2 separate regions of the Homo sapiens genome follow, and region 1 is linked to region 2. A link means that fine-mapping ties the variant in region 2 to the expression of a gene that starts in the linked region. Tissue or cell type: whole blood. Region 2 holds a variant in brackets; the other region holds the start of a gene. All regions are shown on one strand. Distances are between the middles of the regions.

Evidence for each region. PIP is the estimated chance that this variant, and not a neighbour inherited with it, causes the effect.
Region 1: it holds the start of GHDC, and the variant in region 2 is fine-mapped to the expression of GHDC in whole blood (INTERVAL, PIP 0.97).

What each region holds. Positions count from the first base shown.
Region 1 is chr17:42,189,499-42,197,586 of GRCh38, reverse strand. GHDC (GH3 domain containing) reads left to right here and starts at 3,093. Exons shown (of 10, transcript NM_032484.5): 1 at 3,093-3,194; 2 at 3,737-3,820; 3 at 3,993-4,270; 4 at 4,560-4,681; 5 at 4,845-5,346; 6 at 6,377-6,569; 7 at 6,684-6,755; 8 at 6,830-6,963; 9 at 7,317-7,402; 10 at 7,666-8,088. The coding sequence starts at 4,006. The coding sequence ends at 7,884. RefSeq lists enhancers at 2,951-3,180, 4,075-4,605.
Region 2 is chr17:42,269,297-42,277,398 of GRCh38, reverse strand. It overlaps STAT5B (signal transducer and activator of transcription 5B), which reads left to right and starts at 1,008. Exons shown (of 19, transcript NM_012448.4): 1 at 1,008-1,151. RefSeq lists a silencer at 766-1,375. The variant A/C (reference allele first, on the strand shown) is at 3,950.

The DNA of each region.
Region 1 (8,088 bases), 80 kb after region 2:
TCCAGCCTGGGTGACAGAGCGAGGAAAAAGAAAAGAAGCCAAGTACAAAAGACCGCATATTATATGATGCCATTTATAGGAAATGTCTAGGATAGGCAAATCTATGGAGACAGAAAGTAAATTTGAGGTTGCCTAGAGGCTGGGAAGGAGTTTGGAGGTAATAGTGAAAGGATACAGGGTTTGGGGGTTTTTTTGTTTTGTTTTTTTTTTTGTTTGTTTTTCTTGAGACAGAGTCTCGCTCTGTCACCCAGACTGGAGTGCAGTGGCGCCATCTCGGCTCACTACAACCACTGCCTCCCAGTTTCAAGCGATTCTCCCACCTCAGCCTCCCAAGTAGCTGGGATTATAGGCGCCGGCCACCAGACCCTGCTAATTTTTGTATTTTTAGTAGAGACAGTGTTTTGCCATGTTGGCCAGGCTGGTCTTGAACTCCTGACTTCAGGTGATCCACCTGCCTTGGCCTCCCAAAGTGCTGGGATTATAGGTGTGAGCCACCACGCCCAGCCTGAGTTTGGGGTTTTTTATTTTATTTTATTTTATTTTATTTTATTTTATTTTATTTTATTTTATTTAACGAATTGGGCAGTCTCCTGAGGCACAGTAGGCTCAGAGAGACTCTGCAGGGTTTGTTTTTGAGGTAAGGAAAATGTTATTATCTGTGGTGTTGGTTGCACATATCTCTGGATATACTAGATCTTGAATTGTACACTAAATGGGTGATTTGTATGGTGTGTGAATTATATCTAATAAAGCTGTTACTGGGCCAGGTCTAGTGGCTTACACCTGTAATTCCAGCACTTTGGAAGGCCAAGGTAGGAGGATCGCTGAGACCGGGAGTTCCAGACCAGTCTGGGCAACATAGTAAGACCCCCTGTCTCTACAAAAAAAAAAAAAAAATGTTTTTAATTAGCTGGGTGTGGTGGCACATGCCTGTAGTCCTAGCCACTCAGAGGCTGGGGTAGGAGGATTGCTTGATCCCCGGAGTTCAAGGTTGCAATGAGCTGTGACCAGGCCACTGAACTCCAGCCTGGACAACAGAGCAAGACCCTGTCTTTAAATAAATAATAAAAGCAAATGCAAGATCTCAGCGAGAAAAAACGTGAAAGTGAGGTGAGTTAGCCAGAGTGAGAACAGACCTGTTGAAAGAAGCTCAGCTGTGAAGGGAAGAGAGGTGCTCAGCAAGTAGTAGCTCTCTTCTCAAAGGTATCCAGAGGCAAGTAAGGGGAGAAAGGGAGTGGTTTTAGTGTTTTGAGAGCCTAGGTCAAGAACACACCAGCCTGGGCAACATAGGGAGCTCTCTCGTCTCTACAAAAAATAAAATTAGTTGAGCGTAGTGGTGCGTACCTGTAGTTCCAGTCCCTTGGGAGGCTGAGACAGGAGGATCTCTTGAGCCCAGGAGGTTGAGGTTGCAGTGAGCTATGATCGCACCACTGCACTCCAGCCTGGGCAATAGATCAAGACCCTGTCTCAAAAACAAAAAACAAAAAAAGAGAAGTTTGTAATTTTCCTTGGGATAAAGGCAACAGGCTAACACAGATGGTCACCCAGTAACCAGGTAAAGTTAAGATAAACTATATGTGACTGGCTGGGTGCAGTGGCTCAGGCCTGTAATCCCAGCACTTTGGGAGGCCGAGGCAGGTGGATCACTTGAGGTCAGGAGTTTGAGACCAGCCTGGCCAACATGGTGACATGGTGAAACCCCGTCTCTACTAAAAATACAAAAAATTAGCTGGGTGTGGTGATGCGTGCCTGTAATCCCAGCTACTCGGGAGGCTGAGGCAGGAGAATTGCTTGAATCTGGGAGGCGGAGGTTGCAGTGAGCTAAGATCGTGCCATTGCACTCCAGCCTGGGCAACAAGAATAGAACTCTGCCAAAAAAACAAAAAAAAAGAAGTTTGTAATTTTCCTTGGGATAAAGCCAGCAAGCTAACACAGATGTTCACCTAATAACCATGTAAAGTTAAGATAAACTATGTGACTGGCTGGGTGTGGTGGCTCACACCTGTAATCCCAGCACTTTGGGAGGCCAAGGAGGGTAGATCACTTGAGGTCAAGAGTTTGAGACCAGCCTGGCCAACATGGTGAAACCCCATCTCTACTGAAAATACAAAAATTAGCTGGGCGTGGTGGCACACACCTGTAATCCCAGCTGCTTGGGAGGCTGGGGCAGCAGAATCGCTTGAACCTGGGAAGTGGAGGTTGCAGTGAGCTGAGATTGTGCCACTGCACTCCAGCCTGGGCAACAGAGCAAGACTGTGTCTCAAAAAAAAAAAAAAAAAAAAAAGATAAACTATATGTGACAAGTCCTCTTACTTGAGGACTCGTTATTGTTTATCTTGAAAACGTGTATGTAATGGGTTGTATGCGCTTGGCTATACAAAAAAGTAAGATTTCCTCCCTTCTTTGCAAGCTCTTAGCAGATCACCTGTCATGTACATCACATTGTGGTTGAATGCTTATTCAATAATAAAATTGTTTTCTTTCTCAACTACCTTGAGGGAGAGGATGGGGTTTTTTTTGTTGTTGTTTTTGTTTTGTTTGTTTTTGAGACGGAGTTTCGCTCATTGCCCAGGCTGGAGTACAATGGCGCAATCTCAGCTCACTGCAACCTCCGCCTCCCAAGTTCAAGTGATTCTTCTGCCTCAGCCTCCCAAGTAGCTGGGATTACAGGCATGTGCCACCACATCTGGCTAATTTTGTATTTTTAGTAGAGATGGGGTTTCACCATGTTGGTCAGGCTGGTGTCAAACTCCTGACCTCAGATGATCCACCCGCCTCAGCCTCCCAAAGTGTTGGGAATACAGGCGTGAGCCACCGCGCCCAGCTGAGTTGGGGTTTTAAGAGTTCTTAAGCTTGCCCCTCTCCCAGCTCAAGTGGCTTAATGGCGTTCTTTCCCACACACACCTTTCTGTTCCTTCACCTGCGCAAGTTTGAGGACCATGCTAGTCTGGTCCTAACTGCCCCAACTGCCAGCCTGGGCTAGCACCCGACATGAAGTCCTGTAGGCGACCTGCCCCTTTAAGAGCACCCCCCTCCTTCAGCTCCTCCCTCAGGCCTGGTGGCCGGATTTCCCAGTTGGGGCCCAGCCTTTTAAAGCCATCGCTCCTTCTTTCTGGCCGGATGTGTGCTGAGACCCAGAGTCACCCAGGGGTCTCCGTCACGTGCCAGGAGTAGGCAGAAGTGGGCTGTGACAGGTGCATGTGGGCATGGACCCCACAGCCTGGGGCTCAGGAGGGACAAGGAGCTGGGACAGGGTGGATCCCGAGAGAAAGCAAAGCCACTCGGGAGTGGGCAAGAGATATCGTTACGCAGCTGCTGTGTGCCCGACCGACCCTGTCCGAAACCCTTCCTGTACCTTCCCTTCCTCTTCCTTCTTTTCTCCCTTTTTTTTCTTTTCTTTTTTTTTTTGACAGGGTCTCACTCTGTTGCCCAAGCTGGGGTGCAGTGGCACGATCTTGGCTCACTGTAGCCTTGACATCCTGGGCTCAAGGGATCCTCCCATCTCAGCCTCCCAAGTAGCTGCGACTATGGGTGTGACACCACGCTGGGCTAGTTTTTCAATTTTTTGTAGAGATGGAGTCTCCCTATGTTGCTCAGGCCGGTTGCAAACTCCTGGGCTCAAGTGATTCTCCTGCCTCAGCCTCCCAAAGTGCTGGGATTACAGATGATAGCCACCTCACCCGGCCCACCCCTACCTTCTGAAAGAGGCATTCTTATTCTTATTCCCATTTTGCAGATCAGGAAACAGAGCTCAGTGCAGCCCACTAAATTGCTCAGGGCCCTACAGCTAACAAGCGGCAGAGGCAGGATCTGCACTCAGGTCAGTGGGACTCCAAAGCTTTGATAGTCTCTCCTTTGCATCACCTGCCCCACAGGGTCCTGCCTTCTTCCCAATTTCATTTTTCCTCGGTTTTCCTGTATGCAGTAGAGCGTGGGAGGAGAAATGGATAATTGCTGCATGCCCCCATATCTCGGTTCCTTCCTCTTCCCAGGAGCTGCTTGGAGATGCTGCTGTGGCCACTGCTGCTGCTGCTGCTGCTGCTGCCAACATTGGCCCTGCTCAGGCAGCAGCGGTCCCAGGATGCCAGGCTGTCCTGGCTTGCTGGCCTCCAGCACCGAGTGGCATGGGGGGCCCTGGTCTGGGCAGCCACCTGGCAGCGGCGGAGGCTGGAGCAGAGCACGCTCCATGTGCACCAGAGCCAGCAGCAGGCCCTGAGGTGGTGTCTACAGGGAGCCCAGCGCCCCCACTGTTCCCTCAGAAGGAGCACAGGTGTGTTTCCCAGGGTCTGGGGAGGTGACCCAAAGAGAAAGAAACCCCACAGGACCGTCAGATTCCAGAGCCTGATGGCCCCCTTACCTCCTCCACTGCCAACGGAGTGGCCTGACCCAGAGACCCAGGACTGGCTTTCTTGTCCAAGATGAATTTCCCATGCTGGGTCCTTACATCCTCTCTACCCCAGGCCTATTCTCGGTTCCTCCCTCAAGGGTCTCACCAGTCTTGCCTGAAACTCTTGGGAAACTGGCTTCCTGAGGCGTTTCTGTTGTCATTGGGGCTATAGACATAAGCACCTTCCGGAATCATCTCCCTCTGACCAAGGCCAGCCAGACCCAGCAGGAAGACAGTGGAGAGCAGCCACTGCCCCCGACCTCAAACCAGGACCTTGGGGAGGCCTCTCTGCAGGTAATCTAGGATGGCCAGAGCCCAGTCCTGGCCACAGCCCAGTCCCACCAGAGACCTCTGACTTGCAGCCAAACCCTCCAGTCATGGTGGGCAAAGAACCCCCAAATGGGGGCTCTGGGTCTGGCTCTGACACCAGACCAACATTCTCTCTTTCCTCCTCCAGGCCACCTTGCTGGGTCTGGCAGCCCTAAACAAGGCCTACCCAGAAGTGCTGGCTCAGGGACGCACTGCCCGTGTGACGCTTACATCCCCTTGGCCCCGACCCCTGCCTTGGCCTGGGAATACCCTGGGCCAGGTGGGCACCCCTGGAACCAAGGACCCTAGGGCCCTGCTGCTGGACGCACTGAGGTCCCCAGGGCTGAGGGCACTGGAGGCTGGGACGGCTGTCGAACTTCTGGATGTTTTCTTGGGCCTGGAGACTGATGGTGAAGAGCTAGCTGGGGCGATAGCTGCCGGGAACCCTGGAGCGCCTCTCCGTGAACGGGCAGCTGAGCTCCGGGAGGCCCTAGAGCAGGGGCCACGGGGACTGGCCCTTCGGCTCTGGCCAAAGCTGCAGGTGGTGGTGACTCTGGATGCAGGAGGCCAGGCCGAGGCTGTGGCTGCCCTCGGGGCCTTGTGGTGCCAAGGACTAGCCTTCTTCTCTCCTGCTTATGCTGCCTCGGGAGGTCAGTGGGACTCAAGGGCAGTGAGGTGGGGGCAACGGTCAGTGGTCACATGACAAGCAGCCATGCATTGGGCCCTACATAATCATCTCATTTAATCCTCCCCAACAAGCTGCATGCTAGGGCCAGCAGCCTCCTTTTACAAGTGAAGAAATTCAGGCTCTCTAGGTTAAGAGTCTTGTAGCTGGGTGCAGTGGCTCACGCCTGTAATCCCAGCACTTTGGGAGGCCAAGGTGGATGGATCGTTGAGGTCAGGAGTTCCAGACCAGCCTGGCCAACATGGCGAAACCCCATCTCTACTAAAAATACAAAAACTAGCGGAGTATGGTGGTGCACGCCTATAATCCCAGCTACCTGGGAGGCTGAGGCGGGAGGATTGCTTAAACCTTGGAGGCAGAAATTATAGTGAGCTGAGATCGCGCCATTGCACTCCAGCCTGGGTGACAGAGCAAGACCCTGTCTCAAAAAAAAAAAAAAAAAAAAAAGGCCGGGGCAGTGGCTCACGGGTGTAATCCCAGCACTTTGGGAGAGGCTGAGGTGGGTGGATCACCTGAAGTTAGGAGTTTAAGACCAGCCTGGCCAATGTGGTGAAACCCTGTCTCTACTAAAAATACAAAAATTAGCCAGGTGTGGTGGCAGGCGCCTGTAATCTCAGCTACTCAGGAGGCTCAGGCAGGAGAATCACTTGAACCCAGGAATCACTGAATCACTGAGCCGAGATCGCACCACTGCACTCCAGCCTAGGTGACAGAGCGAGACTCTGTCTCAAAAAAAAAAAGAGTCTTGCACAAATTCATGTGGCACCAGGATTCACTCCCAAGTCTGCCCCCTCCAGGACCACAGCACTCTGCCTCTTTCCAGTGAGGGCCTAAGAGGCAGCCCGCTGAGGCTGGGGGAGCCAGGAAGGATGTGGTGGAAGGGCAGCAGGAGGATCAGGTGCTCAGAGGATCAGGCCTGGGATCCAGGAGGGGCTATTGCCTGGCAGAAAGCGATGGCACCAGCAGACGCTGAGGAGGCTGCTTTGCTTTCACAGGGGTGCTGGGCCTAAACCTACAGCCAGAGCAGCCCCATGGGCTCTACCTTCTGCCCCCTGGGGCCCCCTTTATCGAGCTGCTCCCAGTCAAGGAAGGCACCCAGGAGGAAGCTGCCTCCACCCTCCTTTTGGCCGAGGCCCAGCAGGGCAAGGAGTATGAGCTGGTGCTGACGGACCGCGCCAGCCTCACCAGGTGATCAGCTGCACAGCCCCTGCTACCTGGGGCCCTATGGGACCGTGCTGGGGGCCTGGGGCATGAGCTCAGAAGACCTTGGGCCCGACCTCACTCCCACTTGCACCCCATCAGGTGCCGCCTGGGTGATGTGGTGCGAGTGGTTGGTGCCTACAATCAGTGTCCAGTCGTCAGGTTCATCTGCAGGTAGGTGACCCCGGGGAGCTGAAGGGCCATCCTTGTGTCCTGGGCTCCACTGCCTCTCCCTTCCTCCTCTTCAGGCTGGACCAGACCCTGAGTGTGCGAGGGGAAGATATTGGTGAAGACCTGTTCTCTGAGGCCCTGGGCCGGGCAGTGGGGCAGTGGGCGGGGGCCAAGCTGCTGGACCATGGCTGTGTGGAGAGCAGCATTCTGGGTGAGCCTCCCCACCGGCTCCTGCCTACCATCCTTGAGCTACCCTTCAACTCCTACCTCCCCTGCCAGGGGACTGCTAGGAAAGAGATAAGCCTCCTTTACTACTCCTACAAAAGTCCTTCTCTGCATCTAACTCTCATCCATCCTGCTGCAGTCTCTACCCATTTTCTTTCCTGATCTGTCTCCTATTTAGGATCAAGCTCTAGGTTCCTCTCCATTTACCCCACTCCCCACCAAGAAACTCTTTTTTCCCTATGAATCTCAGAGTGGGGAAGAACAGATAGGGCAGAGGACACTAGACTTGGCAGCTGCCCATTCACCGGAAGTATGTGTGCACATGGGGTCTATTCACAGATTCCTCTGCGGGCTCTGCTCCCCACTACGAGGTGTTTGTGGCGCTGAGGGGGCTGAGGAATCTGTCAGAGGAAAATCGAGACAAGGTAAAGGAGACGAGGACAGGGTCTGACTGTAGACCCCTTCACTCTGCACACTCCCAGGGTGCCATGGAGATCAGGGCTGATGGGAAGGAGAGGGGTGGCGGAGGAGAAGCTCCCTGGGGCTCTGGGAGGGGAGGGCTAAGTCCCACAGACACACACCTGTCCACACAAAACTTCTAAACACATGTAGCCTGGGCACAGCCACACACGCCTCGTGTGCACACTCACAGTCACACACCAGCTCACTCAGGCTGTTCTGTTCCCAGCTGGACCACTGCCTTCAGGAAGCCTCTCCCCGCTACAAGTCCCTGCGGTTCTGGGGCAGCGTGGGCCCTGCCAGAGTCCACCTGGTGGGGCAGGGAGCCTTCCGAGCACTCCGGGCAGCCCTCGCTGCCTGCCCCTCCTCCCCCTTCCCCCCTGCGATGCCCCGGGTCCTTCGGCACAGGCACCTGGCCCAGTGTCTGCAGGAGAGGGTGGTGTCCTGAGTCAAGTCCTGCCCCACCGCCCAGCTCCCCCCAGAGGCCACCTCGCCCCTCCCTCTGGGACCTCTCCGGATGGGGAGTCCTTGGCCAGGGTCTCTGACTCTGTGTCACCTGACATTTGCCCATGAGAGCCGCTGGGCCTTAGAGAGGCCTTGGCCCAGCTGACCGGTTCTGAAGTATGGGCCTCCGGGGTTAGCAGATGCCAGC
Region 2 (8,102 bases):
GGACATGAACGTTTTGCATACACACAGGGGAGCTCTGTGTGTCTGAGTGGGGGCGGGAGGGGTCCTTCTCTCTCTTTTGGCCCCTGCAGCTTGGCTTCTGGAGCTTTCCTATGTCTTGCTTTAGTGCTAGCCCTTGGAGGGTTGCCAGGGAAACCGCTGGCCAGCTCCGGGAGATAGACGTAGCAGAGGAAAGGAGAGTGGGTGACTCAGCCTGGCTTCCCACAACCGCAACCCCCTCCTCAGCACGTGGAAAGGATCTGGGGGACCCCCTTCCCCTGGATCCTACAGATGACCCTGTTTATTCTTTCTTCTCTAGAGAGAGCAGTCCCTCCCGCAGCTCTGACTGGTGGGAGCCAGCCAGATTTTCCCAGGAAGGGAACCGGCCCCAGGCGCCCCGTCCCCCGTAGGTTCACCCTGGAACTCGGACAGGTGAATTCGGCCTGGGCGAATGTGAATTCCTGCCGTGCCCATGCAGGCGGCAGGAGCCCTGGCTGAGACGCCCTCCCGGGGGCAAACCCAGGATAATTATTGATCGGGGCCCCTGTGGACTTCTGACCTCGGCCTCGGCGGGAGAGGACCCGGAACGCGGGCCTGGGCTCCCAGGGAGAGAGGTGGGCGGGCCGCGGAGGGGGCCAACCAAAACGACCACGACAGTGCGCCCTAGCCCTGCTAGTGGTGGTCGACCCAACCCAAACAAAGCAGCATGTGCTTGCGGTGCGGCGTCGGCTAGGGAGCCGAGCCGGGAAGACACCCCACCGCCGCAGAAAGGGGGTGCGCGCGGCGCCGGCACCGGCACCGCCGAGCGCGCCGCCACCTCGGGTGTGCCGAGGGGGTCCGGGTCCTTCAAGGGCGGTCGCGGAGGGGGCGCGAGGGACAGCGGGCTAGCGAGCGCGCGCCGGGCGGAACCAGGAAGCGGGGCGCGCTCCGGGTTGCCAGCGGCGCGCGTCCCTGGGCCTCCGCGCGTGAGCGGCGCGCGCGCCCCCGCGGGCCCCGGCGGGAGGAGAGTCGGCGGCCGGAGCCGTCACCCCGGGCGGGGACCCAGCGCAGGCAACTCCGCGCGGCGGCCCGGCCGAGGGAGGGAGCGAGCGGGCGGGCGGGCAAGCCAGACAGCTGGGCCGGAGCAGCCGCGGGCGCCCGAGGGGCCGAGCGAGGTAGGAGCTGCGGGGCGAGCCCTGGGCCCGGGGCCGGGGGAGCCAGGCCGGGGAGCCAGCCCGGGCGGGGCCCGCGCTCCAGCCGCTCAGCCGCCCGTCAGGGCCGCGCCGCCGCCATCACTCCCGGGCCGCGGTGGTTGCGCGCTGGGCGAGGGGCGCGCGCGGGGAGAGGGGGTCCGGGTTGGCTGCCGGGGAGGCTGAGGGCAATGCGGGGTGCGCGAGGGGGACTTGCGAACGCCGCGGCGCCGCGGGGGGCGTGCGCTTTAAAGGCTGCGTGCGCGTGTGCTGAGTGGGTGTGTGGGGACCCCGCGCCGACCCCATAGGAGCTCAGGGGGCTGCTGTCAGCCGCCTCACACCTTCACGTTGCAATTCCGAATATCCCCAGCCGTCTTCCTTGCTTTAACTTCTTTCTTTCAAAAGAGGTTCCCGGGACTCCGGGGATGGGATGAGCCTGCGGGGGTGCCTGGTGCGGTGGGGGGTATTAGCAAAGCTTCAAGAAACAGGGCCTTATAAGGAATCAAGACAACAAATACGAACGTTTCGATAAGACTCTGGGGGGCGGGATCCCACATCAGGACCCGCCAGGCCTGGGCTCGTGCGTGTGGCCGTGGGATGCAGTGTGCTTTTTCTTTCTAGTCAGGGATAAAGGGTTAAAAGTGCTCCTGGTGTCGGGGGGTAGATATGGAGAGTCGGAAGGGGAGTTGTATCACAAAAGCTGGTCTGAGGCTAAAGGAATCTGGCAAGATGGTCGGGGTGAACAAAGAGGAAAGAACTCACACGGAGCAAGAGGCGGTTGCAAACACTTGTAGCCAGCAGTGATGGAAAAGCCAAAGAAGAAAACCAAGTGTCAGCTTTTAGAAAGACGGGATTAATGAAAAGCACAAGAATTTTAAAGACTAAAAGAGATACCGATTCTCTCTTTGCCAAAGAGCCAGAGTCAGTTCTTTTCTTCTTGGTCCCTGTGATCCCGCCATACCTCGTATCAAATAAATAGTGCCAAAAGTGGGTCAAAGAATGTTAGAGCTGGAAAGGAACCCAGCGATGATGCCATTCTTTTATTGTACAAATGAGGAAACTGAGGCCCAGATAGGTGGAGTAAGTGGCCTGCTCAGGTGACACGGCTGTTTGTTGAGTATCCAGGGATTGAAACTTCAAGGACTCTGAGATTCGTGCTCTTCCCAAAGCATCGTGCAGTATACAGATCTTTGCCTAGATACAATTCCATACATTTTCTCTGCAGTGTCCTCAGGGAATGCCCTTTGAAAGGGCCAGCGTGACACTGAATATCATACTTGGGCTTATGTCATTTTTTTCAGTCTTCAAGTGGTGTTTATGGTCTGCTTGGATCTTAGGTTTCCAAAGCTGTTGGATAGCCGCCTGGGCCATAATAAGCTTTCAGCTGTTGGGTCTACATTATTTCAAATAATTTTGTTATCTTTCAATTAAGGTAATAGAACTGTGCCTCTCTCCCCAACATTCTATTGTTGTCCATTTGCTTATGTTATATTGCGTTATGTTCATTGCCTGTGAGTTCCTAGGTGAGGATGTATTTTATTGAGTGTGCCTTTCATGTTTTAAAATTTCATTTTGTAACACTGTAAATATTGGAGTGGTTCTGATCACTTCAAATGGGGAGAATCTTATTGATTGATTTTATTTTAAGGCTTTGGGTTGTTTTGTTTATTCATTTGGGTACCAGTTTCCATCTCATGGAAGATCACAGTTGTTAGAATGGACATGGCTAAATAAGAGAAGGGGCTGCTGATTTTAAGAAAAACTTCCTATGTGACAATTTGTGGTATCTGTTACGTTTAATTCAAACAAGTCCACACCTTGGGTCAGGTAAGCGCGTTATCTAGGAGATGACTTGTTTGCTACTGTAGCCTCTGGAAGATGAAATTTCAAGCTCCAGATTGAGACACAGGGAAGGAATGGAGAGGTTTTTTTTTTTTTTTTTTTTTTTTTTGTAAAGCAAACCATCAGAAAAAAAAAGTTGATTTCTATCACCAGTAGTTTGGTTATTGCATAACTTGAAGCTAAACTCTGCACAAAATAATCTTTGCTATATACCCAACTAGGTAAACTATCCCACCTTCTCATCAGTTCTCACCTTTTCGGTGCTTGTATTTTTTGCCCACGGGATATTAATATGGATTGTGTTCAGAAATTTAAGGTGTGTACTTCATAGTATGTATGATTGTAGGAGAAAAATGTGCTATCATCGTTTGGAGTGTTACAACATAAATATTTTGGTCAACACTTCCTATCCTGCTCTGACTTTTCATCTCATCTCCATTTTCTTCCTCTCTTGATTGTTTTTATGTCATTTACATATGTAAAAGCCACATCAAGACTAAAGTTGCCATTTATTACTTTTTGATACTTAAGTCGAGTTTTTTCAAATCATAGTATTGTTAGTATTCAAATTGTCTGTAATTTTTGTTAGGCTTATATATTATGAATCCATTTGTTGTGGTTTATTTGGCTTGTTGTTATGTAGGTAGGTGACACAGGTAGTCTTATTGTAAAAGGAAGACGTTATAGATAGGTAAATAACATGCTCAAGATTAGATGCAGGTTACAGGTGGAATCGAAGGAAGCCTAACTATTTTCGTGCCCTACAAAAATGTCTGTATCTCATAAAGTTATTCACAGATTTCTGGACATTCTATCTGTGACACATTTTTTCCCTTTCTGTTAAGAGTGCAGATTACTGCATTATTCCTACAAAAGGAAGCAAAATAACCCTAGTTTGTATGATTTTTCTGATAATTTGAAACTTATTCGTTTAAAAAGCT[A/C]TCTGGCAATTCCAGGTTACTGGACTCTTGAGAAGAATATCCTTTTATTTTGATACTATAAAATATCAAAGTATCAAAATACTTTAACTGTGCAACTTAATAAAAATAATGCTTCAAAGTTAGCTCTGCACTATCGCTGTCCTCAAATGTGTGGTATTTAAAGGAAGAAAATGTTTTTAATTCTGAGCTTTGTGAATAGAACTCTTCTAAAATCAGAAGTTTTTTTTTTTCTCCTGCAGTGTTGGAAACACAACAGTTTTATGCTTATTTCTGGGAATAAGAAAGTCAAACTTAACAATCTAGTTTCCATTGATCAGACAGTTTTTGTACTTAAATTTAAGTTCTAAGCATCAGAGTGATAAATACTTTTTAAAATTGTATTCACTGTTAATTATAGTGGCCTTATTTGAAGTAAAATCTTGACATTGGGTGTTTTATTAATGATGATCCTCTGCTACTGAAAAGCCTATGTCAGTTTGGAGAAGATTTTGCACATCTAAATCTATGCTGTTTTTACTAATCAAAAGAGAAGAGCAATTTACAGGTGTTAGATTTTTAGTTGGTTGAATGAGACCCTCACTTTTGATGGTTTCAGAGTTGAAGTGACGTTTTATTACTTTTGTTAGTTTGGGTCACACCCATCACTTCCTTGGAAGGTATCTTTGAGGTTTGGTTTCCTTTTTTTTTAAATGGTAATATTGGGGTGGGGGTGCTTCCTGTTTGTATTTTCAAAATTAGGTCCACATGTTAACCTTCTTGTAGTGTCACATTTTTATTTTAAACTTATACAGACAAACATCAGATGCCATGTGGTTTGTCTCTGACCCTTTGCGCTACTTCATGACAGCTTTACTGAGTGAAGCCTGAATACCCAATCGGGAAGGCAAGATGTTCTTGTCTTTTCCCAACTCTCTTCAAAGTTTAACAGCCTTGGAAGGAGTCTTAGAACAGCAACAAAAGCACAATTTACAGAAAAATGGAGGTGCTGCTATCTGTTTCCTCGCAGGTACTTGGAAAATGTATAGCACTAAGATAGAGTTGAAACATGTTATGTAGAGCCTTGAATGTCGGTGCTTCAAAGAGGAGTTGCTCTGGGTTTACATGATACAGAACCCCATGGTTTATATTAAGTAGTAATGATAGCCGTTTTTCTGGACTCGCTTAAAAGCCATACACAGTGTCATGGAAAAGAGTTAAGAACAAGGTGAAATTCAGGGTATGGTATTAGAGCTCAGGAGGAATCACCTTCAGCCTTAAAACTCTTCCTTTACTCTCCTGGATCACTTAAGTGATAGGTCACTTTTAATATAAATGTTGCAGGATGAGTTAAGTGGAGCCTTGAGAAATATGTGTAGATTGTTTCAGTGATTAAAGCAAGTGTTCTTTTCCTGGCCTTTAACTCGCTTTATGCTAAGAAGTGTAATAACTAAATAGACTCCTAATTGAATTGACATTCAGATGTGTTTGCAGTTTAGGGGGAGTTTACCTCTTCTAAATTTTCATTTGGATCCCATTACTAAAAGCAGTATTGCATTAGCATGGTGCACAATTATGTACAATTCAATTTGCAAATGAAGTTAATACTTGGAGTATCTTGACTTCCTATTCCCCTGCTGCCCCAATATTCAAGAAAGGAGAAGTTATAATTTGTCACATACAAGATGGTTTCTTCTTTAGGTTTATTCTTAATAACTATGTCCATTTTCACATGGATGACACCACTGAGATGATGAATACCTGTATTGATTGATTGATGAAGAACATTTATCTTTTTCTACCTACTTTTGGAAGCTAGCTTGCAAAATCTACTGCAACATTCACTCTTCATGTATCCTTCTATTACCTTTGGTACCCTGAATAACCTTTTAAAAATTTTTGTACTTTTCTAATATGAAGAGAAGTAGCTTCATATTCTATGCTAGTTTTCTGAGGTGCTTGTGCTGACTCATTTTTTAAATTATACTAAGATATAGAGCATGGTTTGAGAGCAGTAATGAGATTCTCAGAAAATATGAAAACTTTCCTTTCTGACTAGTTAGAGAAAGGTTGGGGAAGACAAGGGGAAATACATCAATGAGCCAATCAATTATTGTTATTTGTTGGGATTAATTTGGTGACTAATATTTTTAATGCCCATCAGGCTACTAAATGTGAATTTGGCTTTACCCTGTAATGATAACAGGACAAACCCAACGGGTTTCTAACATTGCTTGTTTTCCCCTGGTAGGGGATTTCTTTGCATATGGGAAATCAGGCCGAAGTTGCCAGTAACAGCCACATCCATGATTTGTATTAAAAATAACTATTCATCATTCTGGGCTAGAGCTCTGCTTACCATGGCTCACCTGGGAAGATATTCTGATTATGTATCTAATCATTATGATGCCACCTTTCGAGAGGTGAGCAGACAATTAACAAGTCCTTCAAATTATGTTCAAAACCCAGAGTTTGAGAAAATGTTCCAACGCCTTCAAGTGTGAAGATAATAAAAACATTACCTAATGCTTACCGTTCACTGACAGTGTGCTGGGCAGACATTGTTTTCAGCTCTGGCCTTGTGTTAACTCGTGATTCTCAGAGGAGTGGGTATTATTCCCAGATGGAAGATGAAGAAATGGCCACAGAGAAGTTAAGTAATTTGTCCAAGGTCACATTACTGTTCTTGGCGGGGCTGATTCCAGAGACTGCATCCCTAACTAGTGTACAGCAAAAGCGAGCTGGCCACTGCCACTTTGTTATAAGACATTTTGTTTCTTTGAGGCTTGTATTTCTTTGTGTTCCCAAATGGAGTCTCGTTGGTTTTTGAATAGAAAATATTTTTATATGTTTAGGATTTTTTTAAATGTTGATGAAGATGGTGATAAATATTTTTCCAATTAAAGTATATACTTCTGGTGGAAATTATATTAAAGAAGAGAAAGTCTTAATTTTTATTATAAGTTGTCTTTCATTCTTCTTCCCCTAGCATTACCGTGTACATCATAGAAGAAGAGCTATAAGCTGTCTCCTTGGCCTCTGTTTACAAACAAAGGGATCATTTGTGCCAATGTAGTGGGTTTGTGTTGACATGCACGTCTGTACTGAGAACTCAACAATCCCACTCATTTTATTTACAACTTTATTTTGCGGGGATTTCTGTCCTATTCTTGTTGCATTAAAGCTTTTTAGAGCATTAGTCATGATTTCTGAGACAGATTTAAGAATTTTACTTATTTGGGCTAATTTATTATTATTATTTCTTGAGACAGAGCCTCGCTCTGTCACCCAGGCTGGAATGCAGTGGCGCGATCTTGGCTCACTGCAACCTCCGTCTCCTGGGTTCAAGAGATTCTCCTGCCCAGCCTCCGGAGTAGCTAGGACTACAGGCATGTGCCACCATGCCCAGCTAATTTTTGTATTTTTAGTAGAGACGGGGTTTTGACATGTTGGCCAGGCTGGTCTCGAACTCCTGACCTCAGGTGATCCTCCTGCCTTGGCCTTCCGAAGTGCTGGGATTACAGGCATAAGCCACCATGCCCAGCCTATTTGGGCGAATTTTTAAGGCAACTGAACTATTGTATGTCTAGAGCTCTGCAAAGGCCATTAGAAAATAGTCTCAGATTTTTTTTTTTTTTTCATTTATGATGCTTACTTTCTCTCAGCACTTTTCCTTGGGAGTGGATTGTGAAGTTAAGTCTTGGAAACAGAATTCACAACCCTAAAGCGTAGTGCTTTAACTTTGGGAGATCAAGTCACAGACAAGAAGAACTTCAATTCCCTGTGCAGAGTATAAACTTGTTCAAATAAACAGAGGATGTTAGCTTCCAGGATTGTCAACTGTCACCTTTGACCAGGGTTGAATTTTCTTTGAATGTTGACAGAAGTTACAATGTCAGTGGAAAAAGCTTAATGTGAGGTATCTATAACTCAGAATTTCCTTATGTTTGTGTCAGTGAGATCCTACAATTAAAGCTGCTTCTTTTTTTCTATGTCTGATGAGTTTTAAAAGCCTTCACTGGGGTTTTCCAGCCTTTAGGTGAGAGTAAGTTAAAAAGTTTGTGAGAAACTATTTTTTGTTGTCTAAAATTCAGAGCCTAGGTCGGGCCCAGTGGCTCACGCCTGTAATCCTAACAATTTGGGAGGCCGAGGCAAGCGGATCACGTGAGGTCAGGAG